2 linked regions of the Homo sapiens genome follow. The protein of the gene in region 1 purifies or fractionates together with the protein of each later gene. This does not show direct contact. Each region holds a gene or a part of one and is shown on either strand. Other genes may lie near its edges.

Evidence for each region.
Region 2: the proteins of SRSF11 (region 1) and RBM25 purify together in Homo sapiens (affinity purification with mass spectrometry; 2 studies listed by BioGRID and IntAct, with this or other methods). This does not show direct contact.

Annotation. Positions count from the first base shown.
Region 1 is NC_000001.11:70,244,813-70,253,131, reverse strand, and holds the end of SRSF11 (serine/arginine-rich splicing factor 11), read right to left. Parts: coding exon 8,317-8,319; intron 6,315-8,316; coding exon 6,225-6,314; intron 6,016-6,224; coding exon of another isoform or gene 6,000-6,015; exon of another isoform or gene 5,983-5,999; intron 3,202-5,982; coding exon of another isoform or gene 3,181-3,201; coding exon 3,085-3,180; intron 2,768-3,084; coding exon 2,629-2,767; intron 2,525-2,628; coding exon 2,327-2,524; 3' UTR 80-2,326; downstream 1-79. UniProt on the Homo sapiens protein: May function in pre-mRNA splicing.
Region 2 is NC_000014.9:73,061,534-73,069,192, reverse strand, and holds part of RBM25 (RNA-binding protein 25), read right to left. Parts: intron 4,222-7,659; exon of another isoform or gene 4,100-4,221; intron 1-4,099. UniProt on the Homo sapiens protein: RNA-binding protein that acts as a regulator of alternative pre-mRNA splicing. Involved in apoptotic cell death through the regulation of the apoptotic factor BCL2L1 isoform expression.

The DNA.
Region 1 (8,319 bases):
CATTTAAAAAAGCTCATTGTATAGCTACCACCTCTCGTTCACTCCTAAAGGATTTAAGCAAATAAATAAGGACAAAACATTTTTCTAACAAAAACCACTTTTATTTTTAAATCAATTTACTATCAAATACACAACAGAACTCGGTGTGGAGGCAGTGTTTGATTTCAACTGGTTATCTGTTAAAAGGCTTGTGTCCCAGTGCAACACTACCTTTGTGCAGAAAATGTTCACTGAAAATAAATATCCTAAGAATGGATAATCTTCACTGTAGCATCTTGTCAGTGGCACTACTTTTAAAAAAATGATTCCCTTTAGAAAAGCTAGTATATTTGTATTCAGAGATTACAAGTGAGGGAACACACTGTGAATATTAGGTTTACCATATGTGAAATTTGTTTTTGACTTACAAAAATGCCCATGTCACATGGTTCACCTTTTATCTACTAAAGTTTAAAACAAATGTCATTTGTGTTGAACTTTGTTTTTTAAAAATGCAGTGATTAGGACCATTATTAGAACTTCTTTTACTCACTATAGACAATTCTTTTTGATAAAATCTTTAAAAAGTTACTTACTACAAACTGTAAAAACAATGCTGTTTTTCTATATGGCATTTCAGTTTTTAGGTTAAAAAAAACAAAACAAAACCCTATTTATACTCAAAACTTGGATAAAAGCTACAATTCCAAGTCTCATTTTCCCTTAACCCCAGCCACCCAAACACTACTCATTTCATAAATGAATACTATTTAGTACTGTACAGTAGATACATATTGACAGCTTCTATACTACTCCAGAAAGGCAAATATCTGTATTTCACCGAAAATATAAATTTGCTAGATATAGGTGGGATTTGTTTATACTAAAGTTCATTGCTTTATCCAACCCCATTCCCACACAAAAAATAAGCAATAAAATGATACTAAGCTAAGAAAAGGACTATTTTGGATAGAAATTAAATCATTTTTGACAATTTTGATGGCAATTATCACTACAGTGATAGACTTCCTCTTTTTACTATACTGAAATATGTGGACAGAAAGGGAAAGAATTTGTAAAATGAATGAGGTAAATGTCATACATTCAGTAGCGTAAATAAATACAAATACGGTTTTACAGGAACATGAACATAAGTTTAAGGGTTTTATTATCAAAGTCTTGTAAAACAATTTCAGAAACTGTACATCAACATGGCACAGACTGTAGCCTACTTTTGTTTCTACTGCACAAAAGTGAAGCTTGAAACTTCTGTAACTAAGAAAACAGTTGCCTACTTTGCATATATAACATGAAATCACCGTGTGCATAAGATTACTACTGCAGTAACACAAATTTATTGGTTTTATACAACTTGAGATCAAATAAAGGTACATTATCAAGTAGATTTGTCTTATTTTAAAAGCGTATGAAGGTCAATTTAAAATGCACTACCCCTTTTTTCCAACACGGAGCTTAAAACAAATTAATGAAAGAGTGGAAAATTCAAAATAAGGGCAAGAGATAAGGTTTTTTTCTTTTTTTCCTTTAAGATAGACTCAGGATAGGTAGATAGCTTTCACTGATGTAGATGTGGAATAAATTATTACTTCAGGAAAAAAATTCCCAAACATCTTATGAAAAAGTATACAACTCTACTTCAAAATATGCTATTTACTCACTGCCAAAGACAGTTTTATTTGAAATCTTGTTTCTGTATTTAAACCCTAATTAGCCACCAAAAAAGGTTAGTGCATAATAACCTTTCAAAGTTAAACAAAAGCCACAAAAATTTTGCCACAAGGCTTAAAGGATTATCTATTTCAAATGCTCATTTCCAGATGTAACTATAAGAATGTTAATTTGTCATGTCAACAAACAAGACCATAAGTAGATCCATCATGTTGGAGGATTTTAATGACATTTAGGATATTCTTGCCACAATAACATGCAATCAGTGCATTTCCTACATGGCTCTATTACGGCAATGAATCAAATTATAGAAATACTATAAGTGAACTTACTTAATAAAGGATATCATACGACATAAACAATCCATGCCTGCTGTAGATGCATGCAGCTTTTCATTTTTGTTATGAAGCAGCACCAGAATAGTAAAACTGCTTGGTTACTCAATCAGATTTCACCATGACAAGAATTGGTTACCTCGTACCATTTTCTAAAAGCTTTTTGATGTAAATAACTAATATGAGTAACAGGAGCTTTATAACCATTTATAACTCAGAGCTGTATACATCTAGGTTTGAGATGAACAAATACAGCATTAAGAAATCACACAAAGGAATGACACTGATGCAGGTATACAGTTGGACTCCCTCAGAGGCAATATTCAGTCACTCATATCCATGTCTTCTTCATGATGATCATCCCCATTCACTTTGGATTCTCTTAGTGAATCACCAGTTCCCTTTTCCACAGAACATTCCTTTGTTTTAGGGGAACCTGTTTCTATTGGTTTCTTCTCTTCTTTTTTCTCTTTCTCACTGTCATACCCCTGTTCCTCTTCATCATAATCCCGTGTAACCTGCTTTGCCAAGGAGAATAATAAAAGTAAACTTCTCCAAAGAAAAATAACTTCTGAAAGTACCAACATCACCCCAAATATAAAAATAAATCAATTTGTAAACATACTTTTACATCTTTATCACTCTCTGATTTTCTTTCCCGGTCCTTTTCCTTATCTTTACTCTTCTTCTTCTTGCTTGTTGATCGTTCTCTTTCATCCCTACTTCTTTCTTTGTCTTTATCTTTCTTCTTCTCCTTTTTATGTCTAGAATGACAGTAAAATGTACAGCAACAGGTTTAACTTGTTTAGATGATGAGCCTGACTCAATTTCACAGGATATAAGTAGTACAGCAAAGATCCAACTTCAAAACCTTGGAGAAGTAACACAGGCTACAAAACTAACTTGTTTATAGGACTAAAATGTTCAGTCCTTAATGGTGTTTAAGTCACAAGTCAGAAGGAGAATACATTAAAACATTCTTAAGAACTGTAACTGCTGAAAAGAAAAACTACAGGACAGTTTTAAAATGAAAAACCTCTGAAAAATATAAAAAATACATTTAAATGATTAACATTCTTACCTCCTAGGGGATGGTGAGCGGGACAATTTTCTTTTAGGAGACCGAGGCTTTTTAGGAGATCTTGTGCCACTCCTGCTTCTTCGTCGTCGTCTCTCTCTAGAATCACAAATGTGCAAACTAGGTTTTAAAATACAGTGTGATCTTAAAAATGCAGACACATCATAGATGATTCTAACAATGAAAGATGTGGCCAGATGTAGTGGCTCATGCCTATAATCCCAGCACTTTGGCAGGCTGAGGTGAGGGGATTGCTTGAGCCCAGGAGTTCCAGACCAGCCTGGGCAACATGGTGAAACTCTGTCTCTACAAAAAATACAAAAAAATTAGCCAGGTGTGGTGGTGCATGCCTGTAGTCCCAGCTACTCAGGAGGCAGAGGCAGGAAGATCACTTGAGCCTGCGGAGGTTGAAGCTGGAGTGAGTTGTGATAGGGCCACTGCACTCCAGCCTGGGCAACAGAGAGAGACCCTGTCTCAAAAAAACAGAAAAATGAAAGATTGTTTCACAATACTGGTATAAGCTAAACAATTAAATGAGTAATATAATCATCTGCAAACCATGAATCTTTCCCTTTACTACCCTCAAGAAAACTCCTAATTTCTAGTAATTCTTTTAATTGATGACAAAATGTTAGAAATACTAAGCTTGAGAAAAAACTGATTTAACAAAACTAATGCGAGAGGGGTGACGTGTGAAGTAAACTATTACTGAAGAAGTTAGTTTTTGGTTCAAACATTCAGTGTTCAGAGTAAGTACAGAATAATTCAATAATGTGATATAGAAGGTAGTTACTAATAAAATATCCCCACATTCACCTTTAAATCATTAGATGAAATTCAGAGAACTAGTTAGTGGAAAGGTAGAAACCTTATACTCTAGCAAAATCGCCCTCCTGCAGTCCCCCAAAACCCTGCTTTCACCAATTACTTTGAAGATATACAGCTGATATACAGCCTTCCCCTCCTTTTTACTGTAACTTAAAAAAAAAAATTCTGTTCCTGATTCTCAAAAGTTATCAGACTTAAAAAACCCTGTACTTAGTTGTCTAATTTCCAAATGAAGCTTTTTTTCTACTTACACAGCCCTCTGTGACCCTTGTCCTGGAAACGTTACACATAACTGAGCATTCACTTATCAAACATTGTCACGACTGTGCACCTTATACTTTTTGCTACTGTCTTATGTAACTGAAACTCCAAATTCTCTAGACGGAAGAAGTATTTTATATTACATTTCCGTGTCCTTCAACAGACTGTAGCACAACTACAAACACAGTGGGTATTTAATAACTCACAGAAGATGCCTTAATTTAGAGTGATCCAATAATACAGCATGAGAAGGCACTTACAAGTACATTATATAAAGCAACAGGTAAAAAAAAAAATCCTCAACAGTTTTTAAGGTAAGAAAATATATGTAGTACCTTCCATCTTTTCTATCTCTTTGCCACCTATCCCTCAGGCCTGATTCAGCATTTCCTTCTGTACTTACATTTGGTTTCATTTTCATGCTTAAAAATTTAGTTTTTAAGAAAATTTTCACCACCCCAAAAACTCCCTACCCTTTAGTTATCACTCTAATCCTCCCTATCTCCCCAGCAATCAGTAATCTACTTGGTATCTTTATAGATTTGCCTATTCTGGGCATTTCATATAAAAGGAATCACGCAATACACGGCCTTTCATGGATGTTTGCAAGTTTCATCCATACTGTAGCATGTATCAACCTTATTTATCACTGAAAAATATTCAATTGTATAGATATACCATTCTGTTTATCCATTTGTTAATGGATAGTTAACTTTTTGGCTATTATGAAATAATGCCACAAACATTCACATAAAAGTTTTTCTGTGAAAATGTTTTCATTTTCCCCCAGGGGTACAACTGGTGGGTCAAAAACCTCTATGTTTAACATTTTTAGGAAATGCCAGACTGTTTTCTAAAACACCTGTACCAGTTTATATTCATACTAGCAATGCACAGGGTTCTAATTTCTCCACATCCTAATCAACACTTACTATCATCTGTCAGGCTCAGCTATCATCTGTCTTTTTGATTTATAACCATCCTAGTGACTGTGACATATCTCACTGTGGTCTGGTTTGTATTTCCTTGGTGACTAATGATGTTGAACAGATTTTATGTACTTACTAGATATTTGCATATCTCCTTTGGAGTAATGGCTACAGATTCTTTGCCATTTTTAAATTGGGTTGCCTGTCTATTGCTGAGTTCTAAGAGTTCTTAATAGAGAATATATAAAGAATTTTCTAACTAGCACTCTAGGTTTTTACTTTCTTGATAGTATCCTTTGAAATACAAATGTTTTAACTTTTGGTGAATTCCAAAATTTTCTTTTCTTCTGTTGCTTATGCTTTTGAAGTCATATCTAGGAAACCACCAAGCTCATGGTCTTAAAGATTCACTTTTGTTTCTTTCTAAAGGTTTTATAGTTTTGGCTCTTACATTTAGGTCTTTTATACATTTCAGTTATTTTTTTTTATATGGCATGAACCTTCTCCTAGTGAATTTAAGTAATGTTGATGAATAAAACAAGCACTGCAGCAAAACATGTGAATGAGATCTGAAAAATGGAATGAAGTCCAGCCCTTACTATCATATAAATCCCAAATTAAGTATGAAAATGTGCTTTTTGTGCAGTAAGGTCTGCAACATTTCAATTTTCACTGACAGCTTAAAGATAGAATTAGTCTAAGAATGACACAAACCAGAACCTGCATTGCTTCCCATTAATTCAACAGTCATTAAAAGGGATAGAAAAATTCTCAAGTACTAACATGCAGATGATAAATATAGCTTACTATAATAAGCTTACTTAATGGAACAATTCAGTATGGTTTAGCCATTAAAACTTAAACTATAAAGAGAAAAACTCACCTCTCTTGAATTCCATGTTACTTCAAATATACTCTAGACCATAAAATATTAAGTAAAAAGAAAAATAAACTACATTATTCTTCACAAATTGCCTTTTAAAAACTTTAAATAACAGCAAAATGTAACTTTTTTCAACACTGAAATACTTATGTTCTGGAAAAGACTTCATACTGACAGCGTACTGATACTGTTAGAAGCAAAGTTAAAAAAATAATTGCCAAGAATTCACAATGCCACCTTACCTGCTTGCACTTCTAGAACGTCTGGCTGTGCTGTAACTTTTTGGTGGTGTTTTAGAACGTTTCTTTTCTTTGTCTTCTTTCTTTTTGTCTCTAACAAATGAACACAATTTATGAATGCATTAGAAGACTCAGCTGATGCCAATTTATATAGCACTACAAACACAAAAATATAATCAGATCTAATCCCATCCTTAAAAGCATAAATGTTGTTCTGACAGAAACTGTTTTAAAAATAATACTTTATGTGGCATATTTGAAGTACAATAACTTCTTTTAAAATCCTATTATCCTAGGTTTTCTCCCAAGTAGACTAAAGTAGACTATGGGTGAGAAAATAACTAGGATGTTGGCTTGAAATATACTTGGTAAACACCAATAAGTTAACTATCTCTAGGCTCCTCAAGACTCCTTTTTCTCTCAGCTGATTACCACTTTCCCAACCCACCTCTCCTATCAGGCCAAAACCCATAGAGCACTACCAAAATCCATCAATATCATGAATATTCTTCCAAGACACACATCCCATGTCAACCTCTATCATGGATCAAGCAAGCTTCTTTTTCTGCGGCTATTATGAACTATTCAGGGCTTATTAGAAAATATCAACAGATTTTGACTACAGCCGTAACTCAATTTTTTTTTTTTACAGATTCCTATAAATTTTTACTCCTCACAATATTTTTTCCCCAAGATCATCATTCTCCCCAAGACTCTAAGCAAAGAGTAGATAAACGATATATATTTGTTGAATGAGAAGTCTCATAACAACCCCCCTCTTTAACTATTCTCTAATTTTAAGAATCAAAGTATCCCTCTCTTACTGTTCTAAGCTAATCTTTCCATTCTGCATTCTCAATTTCATTTTTTTCCCTTCTCTGGTCATCCTCGGTTCCCTCTTCATTCAATCTTTATCATTGGTTCCCTCTTCATTTGAATCTTTATCATCTAACTCCTAGATTACTAGAACAGTCCCCTAGTAGGTCCCAGTCATGCCTTCCATAAACTGATTCTGTACTCTGTCAGAAATCTTTTAAAGTACAAACCTGAAAATATTAATTCCCTGTTCACCATTTTCAACTCATTCCAGTTGCCTCCTGGATCAAGTGCATAGTGTGAACAACAAAGCCTTCCACGATCGGTCTCATTATATTTTTCTGACCTCATTTTCTAGTCCAACTACATCAAAATATTGTTATTTCAAGAAACACCATTCTCCACCTGAAAGCATGCCTCCCGTTGAGTCTAGTCAAATCTTTCAGAATTTAATACTCGAGTCATTCTCAAACCTCTTCCAATATCAGCAAGTAGCAATCATCATTTAACAGTTCCTCCCCTGTAATTAAATCCATCACTCTTCTCCTAGTAATCAGAAAGTCCTTAAAGAAATGCTTAATTCCTTTGTATAACTGTTCTATTAATCTACCTTGTTTGATTCACTCTGCAGCACATAAGGACTAAAAGCCCCATTATTACAGGTTTAACAATGATAGTAAAGCTACCCCCACTCTTCTGTTCTCATCAGTTGAGTTTTATGCTTCCCAAGAGTAAGTTATGTTGTGTCCCCAGCTGTACTTACTTTAATGACATGATTTAACTAAATATATAAATGAACAAAATAATGCCAAATATAGAGTTGCTTCTAGAAAATTAAGATAAATATTTTAGCAAGAGATAAAAAGCAGTTGCTAAAAAAATTAAGTGCTGTGAAATTGTATGCCTCACAACTATAAATGACTGGGGGCATACTAATTTAAAAGTGTTTGGTTCTACACGAAAAGACTGGTTTTTGAATATATTTTTAGATGGAAATAAAACGTTACGGTATTTCTTATGAAAGAAGGTAGCAGGACAGCTAACAATTCCTACTACTAAGAAATTTTACTTAGGCCCTCAGCTGTAAGCTGAAGTTTCAGTTTACAAGGAAGCACCAGAAAGCAAACGTCAGCCTCCTCAAACTCAAATATTGACAGTTTCTTCCCCTGTCTAGCCCTATTTCTCTGCCCCGCACCCCAACCACCTCTTTTGTTACTAAGTAGCACAGTACTAGGGGTACTGGGAACCCTAAAATTTGCTTTCTCACCCAATGCTATACCTT
Region 2 (7,659 bases), on another chromosome or scaffold:
GTGGCTCACGTCTGCAATCCCAACACTTTGGGAGGCCAAAGCAGGGGGCTCACGTGAGGTCAAGAGTTCTAGACCAGCCTGGCCAACATGGTGAAACCCCATCTCTACTAAAAATACATAAATCAGCCAAGTGTGGTAGCACATGTCTGTAATCCCAGCTACTCGGGAGGCTGAGGCAAGAGAATCACTTGAACCCAGGGTGCGGAGTTTGCACTGAGCTGAGATCGTGCCACTACACTCCAGCCTGGGTGACAGAGTCTGTCTAAAAAAATAAAAAATAAAAATAAAGTCTTATTCCACCTTTATAATGCAGTAAATTGGCTGGGCGTGGTGGCTCACGCTCATAATCCCAGCACTTTGGGAGGCCGAGGTGGGTGGATCACAAGGTCAAGAGATTGAGACCATCCTGGCCAGCATGGTGAAACCCCATCTCTACTAAAAATACAAAAATTAGGAGAGGGGGTGGCTGCAGTAATGAGAGGCTGGTGCTGCAGCTCTTTTCCTGCAGTCCAGCCAAGGAAGCGTGCGTCCCTGGCGCTTCCTTCTCTTTGGACAGAGAGCTTGGGATGTGGTAATGCCAGCCAGACTTCTCAGAGCCATGGTCAGATCTACCGTACACTGGCAAAAGCACATCAGTGCCAAAGAATTGGTCATCTAATGTTAAAACCACTAAAGGAATTTGAAAATACAACATGCGGCACACTGACAATACGTCAAAACTTGGATTTGTTCCTTCCTGATAATACAGCTGGTAGTCTGAATAAGTCTCAGATCCTGTAAATGAACCAAAAAAAAAAAAAAAAAATCAAATACAAGCATTGTCTCTCCATTAAATGCTGCTCACTGCCAAGACGAAAAGGCACACCTTCCAACCATGAAATCCTTTGGTACTCACAAGAGAGTGACCCACAAACCAAATCTATTGGGGTCTAAATGGTTTATAAAAATATTAAAGAGGCATTTCTCATCTGTATCAATGGAAACATTTGTTCCAAAACAAGGCTTTCCACATATCAAGAGACCACTAAAGCATCCAGGACCAAGCAGCCATCTAGGACCAACCTTCCAGTTCTGTCTGTGAACGAGGTAAAGTTGGGGTGGTCGTAGCTCATGTGCTTAGTGATCACTGCTCACGCTAAACCAGTGTGCGCTGCACCCCAGCCTTACCGCCAACTTAAGAAACTGGCAGTCAACTCAGACTGCTCCATCAAGATCTTTGAAGCCTAATAAATATCCAAAGAGATTCAAAATCTTAATTTTTAAGAATTAATGATACATATAAAAACAAAATACAGGCCGGGCGCGGTGGCTCACACCTGTAATCCCAGCACTTTGGGAGGCCGAAGCGGGTGGATCACGAGGTCAGGACATCGAGACCACGGTGAAACCCCGTCTCTACTAAAAATACAAAAAAAAAAAAAATTAGCTGGGTGCGGTGGCAGGCGCCTGTAGTCCCAGCTACTAGGGAGGCTGAGGCAGGAGAATGGCGTGAACCTGGGAGGCGGAGCTTGCAGTGAGCCAAGATCGCGCCACTGCACTCCAGCCTGGGCAACAGAGCGAGACTCTGTTTCAAAAAAAAAAAAAAAAATACAGGCAATAAAACATGAAAAAAATACAAAAATTATCCAGGCGTGGTGGCACATGCCTGTAGTCCCAGCTCTTGGGAGGCTAAGGCAGGAGAATTGCTTGAACCCGGGAGGTGGAGGCTGCAGTGACCCGAGATCAAGCCACTGCACTCCAGCCTGGTGACAGAGCAAGACTGCCTCAAAAATAATAAAATAATAATAATGCAGTAAATTATTATAATACGGACATATTTATTTAACCAACATTAACAGTTGGCTCCACTTTCAGCTCTCACAAATAATGTTGAACATTCCTGGAGATAATAGACATATAACTGTATGCATCTGTACAGGTAATTCTCTAATACAGGTTAGAACTATATGTATCTGATTAGCTGGGTGTGATGGCAGGTGCCTGTAGTCCCAGCTACTCAGGAGGCTGAGGCAGGAGAATCGCTTGAACCTGGGAGGCGGAGGTTGCAGTGAGCCGAGACGGTGCCATTGCACGTCAGCCTGGGCGACAGAGCAAGAATCCACATCAAAAAAAAAAAAAAAAAAAATTATATGTATCCAAACTTTACCTCCAAAATCATCCCTGAAAACTAGCATATAAATGTATATTCCCACCACCAGAATATGGGTATGCCCTTTCCTCATATCCTCATCATTGGTAGAATAGATCAGTGTCAAAATTCTCACAATTTCATAAGTAAAATATACTCTTATTTCAATTTACATTTCCCTCATGACTAATGAGGTTGAGTATGCGTTTACCTGTTTACTAGACATTTCTTTAAAACAGAAAAGCATGACCTACATGCTCACAGCTCTACTTCCTCAGAATTCCTTTGACTTAAATTGGGATAATACCATATTCAATAAAACTAAACTTCAATTTCAGAAAACACAGTATACTTAAAATATTTAGAAAACTTTATAGGTAAAGGAATCCCTAGGATGCATTTTTTTTTTTTTTTTTTTGAGATGGAGTCTTGCTCTGTCACCCAGGAGTGCAGAGGCACCATCTCAGCTCACTGAAACCTCCGCCTGTCGGGTTCAAGCGATTCTCCTGCCTCAGCCTCCCAAGTAGCTAGGATTACAGGTGCACACCACAAGGCACGCACGACCAAGCTCAGCTAATTTTTGTATTTTTAGTAGAGACGGGGTTTCACCATGTATGGCCAGGCTGGTCTCAAACTCCTGGCCTCAAGTGATCCGTCGGCCTCGGCCTCCCAAAGTGCTGGGATTACAGGTATAAGCCACTGCGCCCAGCCCTTAGGAGGATTTAATATACTTGGCAAATGAGGTATTAGAAATGTTTTAAACAGTAGGTAGGTTATCAGTACATATTAACAATGAAAAACACAAGATTGCAAGACTGTAAATGTGTTGAGTTTTAAAATAAACTTTCTGTAAAACTTTTTGACCAAAACCAAAAACTGGGGGTGGTATCTCTTTTTAAAACAGAAAGGGCTACTGTCCTACTTACAGAAGCTCTTCTATTATCATTATAATAGCCTATCTCAGTGCTTTCTTAGGATAGTTGGTTTTCATACCTGTTGAATAAACTGATTAATGAATAAATCAGTAAACAAACTCTGAGGACTTCAATAAACAAATTTATTATGCTATCTCATGCCGCATACTATATTCTAGCAATGGCCCAGTGCCTAGCCTCACAATGGTTACAAGACTGGGCCATGAACTCATTTTTAAAACCACTTTTCCCCCAATAATATTAGATATAAATAATGCTTAAAAACTAAAACTCTCGGTCAGGGGCGGTGGCTCACACCTGTAATCCCAGCACTTTGGGAGGCCAAGGCGGGCAGATCACTGGAGGTCAGGAGTTCGAGACCAGCCTGGCCAAAATGGTGAAACCCCTGTCTCCACTAAAAATATAAACACTGGGCTGGGTGAGGTGGCTCATGCCTGTAATCCCAGCACTTTGGGAGGCCAAGGCAGGCAGATCACAAGGTCAGGAGATCAAGACCATCCTGGCCAACACGGCGAAACCCCGTATCTAATACAAAAAGTTATCCAGGCATGGTAGTGTGCGCCTGTAGTCCCAGCTACTCAGGAGGCTGAGGCAGGGGAATTGCTTGAACCTGGGTGGCAGGGGTTGCAGTGAGCCAAGACTGCGCCACTGCACTCCACCTTGGCGACAGAGCAAGACTCAGTTTCAAAAAAAAAAAAAATTAGCTGGGCACAGTGGCTCACCCCTGTAATCCCAGCACTTTGGGAGGCCGAGGCAGACCGATCACTTGAGGTCAGGAGTTGGAGACCAGCCCGGCCAACATGGTGAAACCCCGTCTCTACTAAAATACAAAAACTAGCTGGGTGTGGTGGCGGGTGCCTGTAATCCCAGCTACTCAAGAGGCAAAGGCAGGAGATCACTTGAACTCGGGAGGCCGAGGTTGCAGTGAGCCGAGATCGCGCCACTGCACTCTAGCCTGGGTGACACAGTGAGACTCTGTCTCAAAAGAAAACAAACAAACAAACAAACAAAATTAGCCAGGTGTGGTGGTGCGCACCTGTAATCCCAGCTACTCTGGAAGGTGAGGCAGGAGAATTGCTTGAACCTGGGAGGCAGATGTTGCAGTGAGCCGAGGTCGCGCCACTGCACTCCAACCTGAACGACAGAGTAAGACTCCGTCTAAAAAAAAAAAAAAAGTAAAACTCTATATTCTTGGTATTTAAGTTATATTTTATGGTTTTTAAATGTGTAATTCATTCTGCAGAGTTAACCAGATATATTTAATTTTCGTTTATGCCAATATACCCATTCCATTCACTTCAAATTTTTCCATAACATATTCCCCTTTATTTGGAGCTGCCAAAACTTGCTTGTTGATAGGCTGGACTTCAAAGGTGAAGGCAAAAATACCAGTTAACAGCTAATTTTTATGGATATTCCTTTAAGATAACTGGCCTCTCCTGGGCGCGGTGGCTCACATCTGTAATCCCAGCACTTTGGGAGGCTGAGGCGGGCGGATCACAAGGTCAGGAGTTCGAGGCCAGACTGGCCAACATGGTGAAAGCCCGTCTCTATTAAAAATACAAAAATTAGCCAGGAATGGTGGTAGGCGCCCGTAGTCCCAGCTACTCGGGAGACTGAGGCAGGAGAATTGCTTAAACCTGGGAGGCAGAGGTTGCAGTGAGCTGGGACCGCGCCACTGCACTCCAACCTGGGTGACAGAGCGAGACTCCATTTCAAAACAAAAATAAAAAAGATTGGTCTCTCATGGAAAATCAGAAAACATTTCTCATCTTTGATAAATACTAATGTCCACTTTAAGCAGCCTAAAAGATTACCAACTACTTATTTCAACACAGGTTTATGTGTTTTGCCATGTGAAACTGATTGAGAATTAACTTTCATAATCATAAGCAAAGCTTATCTGTTACCTATAGATGATAAACAAAATAAATTATAATACATTGAAAGATGGTATGTACTTTGTAGAAAAATAAATTAGGGAAGAGAGCTATGGAGTAGTTTATTTTAAATACAGCGATTAGGCCTCACCAAGAAGGTGAAGATTAGAACAAAGATTTAAAAGAGGCAGAGGCAGGAAGCCCTATTCATATCTGGGGGAAAGAGACTTCCAAGCAAAGGAAAAGACAAATACAAAGAGGCTGAAGCAGGAATGGTGTATTTGAGGGAGGAATAGCAAGGCCAACAGTATGACTGGAGCAGAATAAATGAAGAAAATCAGAAATAAATACTGAGTATTATGAGTAGAGTGTAGGGCTATGTAACACAATGTAAATAAACATTTTAGTTTTAACTCTGAATGAGGTGAAAATCATTTGAAGAGTTTCTGACTTGTCACATTTTAACAGTATCACTGGCCACTGTGTTAAGCCTGGAAGGGAACAGGATACAAGCAAGAGACTGGTACAATAATCCATATAAGAGATGGTAGCCTGGAGAGATGGTGGCCTGGAACAGGTGGTAGTGGTGAAAGTGCTATCAAGTTGTTGGATCCTGGATATATTTTGAAGGCAGCCAATAGGATTTGCTGAGGGATTGTATAATATGTGGGATTTAAAAGAGAGAAATGCAGAGTTATCTTATGGCACTGAAATCATTTCCATAGCATTTTTTAAAATATTGAAAGTACCTCACATTTTAGAAGGTTCAAAGCACCTTTTCCTGCTAAGTATGAAACTCCGGGCCGGGCGCGGTGGCTCAAGCCTGTAATCCCAGCACTTTGGGAGGCCGAGGTGGGTGGATCACGAAGTCAGGAGATCGAGACCATCCTGGCTAACACAGTGAAATCTCGTCTCTACTAAAAATACAAAAATTTAGCCGGGCATAGTGGCAGGCGCCTGTAGTCCCAGCTACTCGGGAGGCTGAGGCAGGAGAATGGCGTGAACCCGGGAGGCGGAGCTTGCAGTGAGCAGAGATTGTGCCACTGCACTCCAGCCTGGGCGACAGAGCCAGACTCCATCTCAAAAAAAAGAAACTCTATAGCCCACGATAATAAAAACAGGAACCTGGGCCAGGTGCAGTGGCTCATACCTGTAATCCCGGCGTTTTGGGAGGCCAAGGCATGCAGATCACTTGAGCTCAGGAGTTCAAGACCAGCCTGGGCGACATGGTGAAACCCCATCTCTACCAAAAATACAAAAAATTAGCCAGGTGTGGTAGCATGCACCTGTGGTCCCAGATACTCAGGAGGCTGAGATGGGAGAATCGCTTGAGCCCGGGAGGTGGAGGTTGCAATGAGCCGAGCTCACACCACTGCACTCAAGCCTGGGCGACAGAGTGAGGCCCCCCAAAAATTAAATAAAATAACAGAAACCTATGATAGAAGGGTTCCCTACCTCTAGTGTAGCGGTGGTCACACAAGTATATGCATTTGTCTAAACTCATTGAAATTAAAACAGATGCATTTTATTGTATGCAAATTTTATCTCAAGAAATCTGGTCCAAAAAGAAACCCTGAAGACATATCTCTAGTACTCAACATATGCATGCACTCAGCTTTTCTTTTTTCACTTTTTTCTCTTTGAATCTTTCAAACTATTTTTTTCTGCACTCTTAAGAATACTGCAAGTATGCAAAATACAGCAAAACACTGCTAATAAGCATTCCTCTATTGTAGACTTATCCAGATAGAAACAAAATTATTTCTCCCAGGATAGATTATTTTAGACTAGCTCCATCAGTACACTACGTGCCAAATTTCTGAAATGATAATGAACTGAGATTCCTCTGAGCAAATATTCACATACAACTCACTCATTCATTCAATATCTACTTCCAATTATGTGTCAGGTCTGCAGGAATTATTCCTAGAAAAAAAAAAGTGTTTTATGCCCAAAGAAGAATGGGAAATGCTTAACAGAAAAACTACTTTTACAGCAAAGCTTTTCAGAAGTATGAAAATACTCAATTGTTTGGAAATCTCCAAAAAAGAGTTGATCTTTTTCTGACATTGCCACTTTTGTTGTTTTACCATTTTCAATGATTAAAGAGCAACACTCCTGTGCCTGCCTATAGTCACAGCTACGCAGGAGGATCACTTGAGCCCTGGAGTTCTGGGCTGCAGCACGCTACTGATCAGGTGTTCATGCTAAGTCCATTCAGCATTAATATGGTGACCTCCTGGGATGAGAGAGAACCACCAGGTTGCCAACAGAGAAGGGCAAAACTCCCAAACTGATCAATAGTGGGATTACGCCTGTGAATAGCCACTGCACTCCAGCCTGAGCAACACAGGAAGAATTCATCTTTTTAAAAACAAAAACAAGGCTGGGCACAGTGGCTCATACCTGTAATCCCAGCACTTTGGGAGGACGAGGCAGGTGGATCCTTTGAGCCTGAGTTCCAGACCCGCCTGGGCAACATGGTGAAACCCCATCTCTACCAAAAATACAAAAAAATAGCCAGGCATGGTGGCGTGCACCTGTGGTCCCAGCTACTTGGGAGGCTGGGGTGGGAGGATTGCTTAAGCCTGAAATGCGGAAGTTGCAGTGAGCCAAGATCGCAGCACTGCCCTCCACCTGGGTGAAAGAGACCCCATCTCAAAAACCAAATAAAACAAAAAAGCAGCGCTATCTACTACTATCTATACAGAAAAAT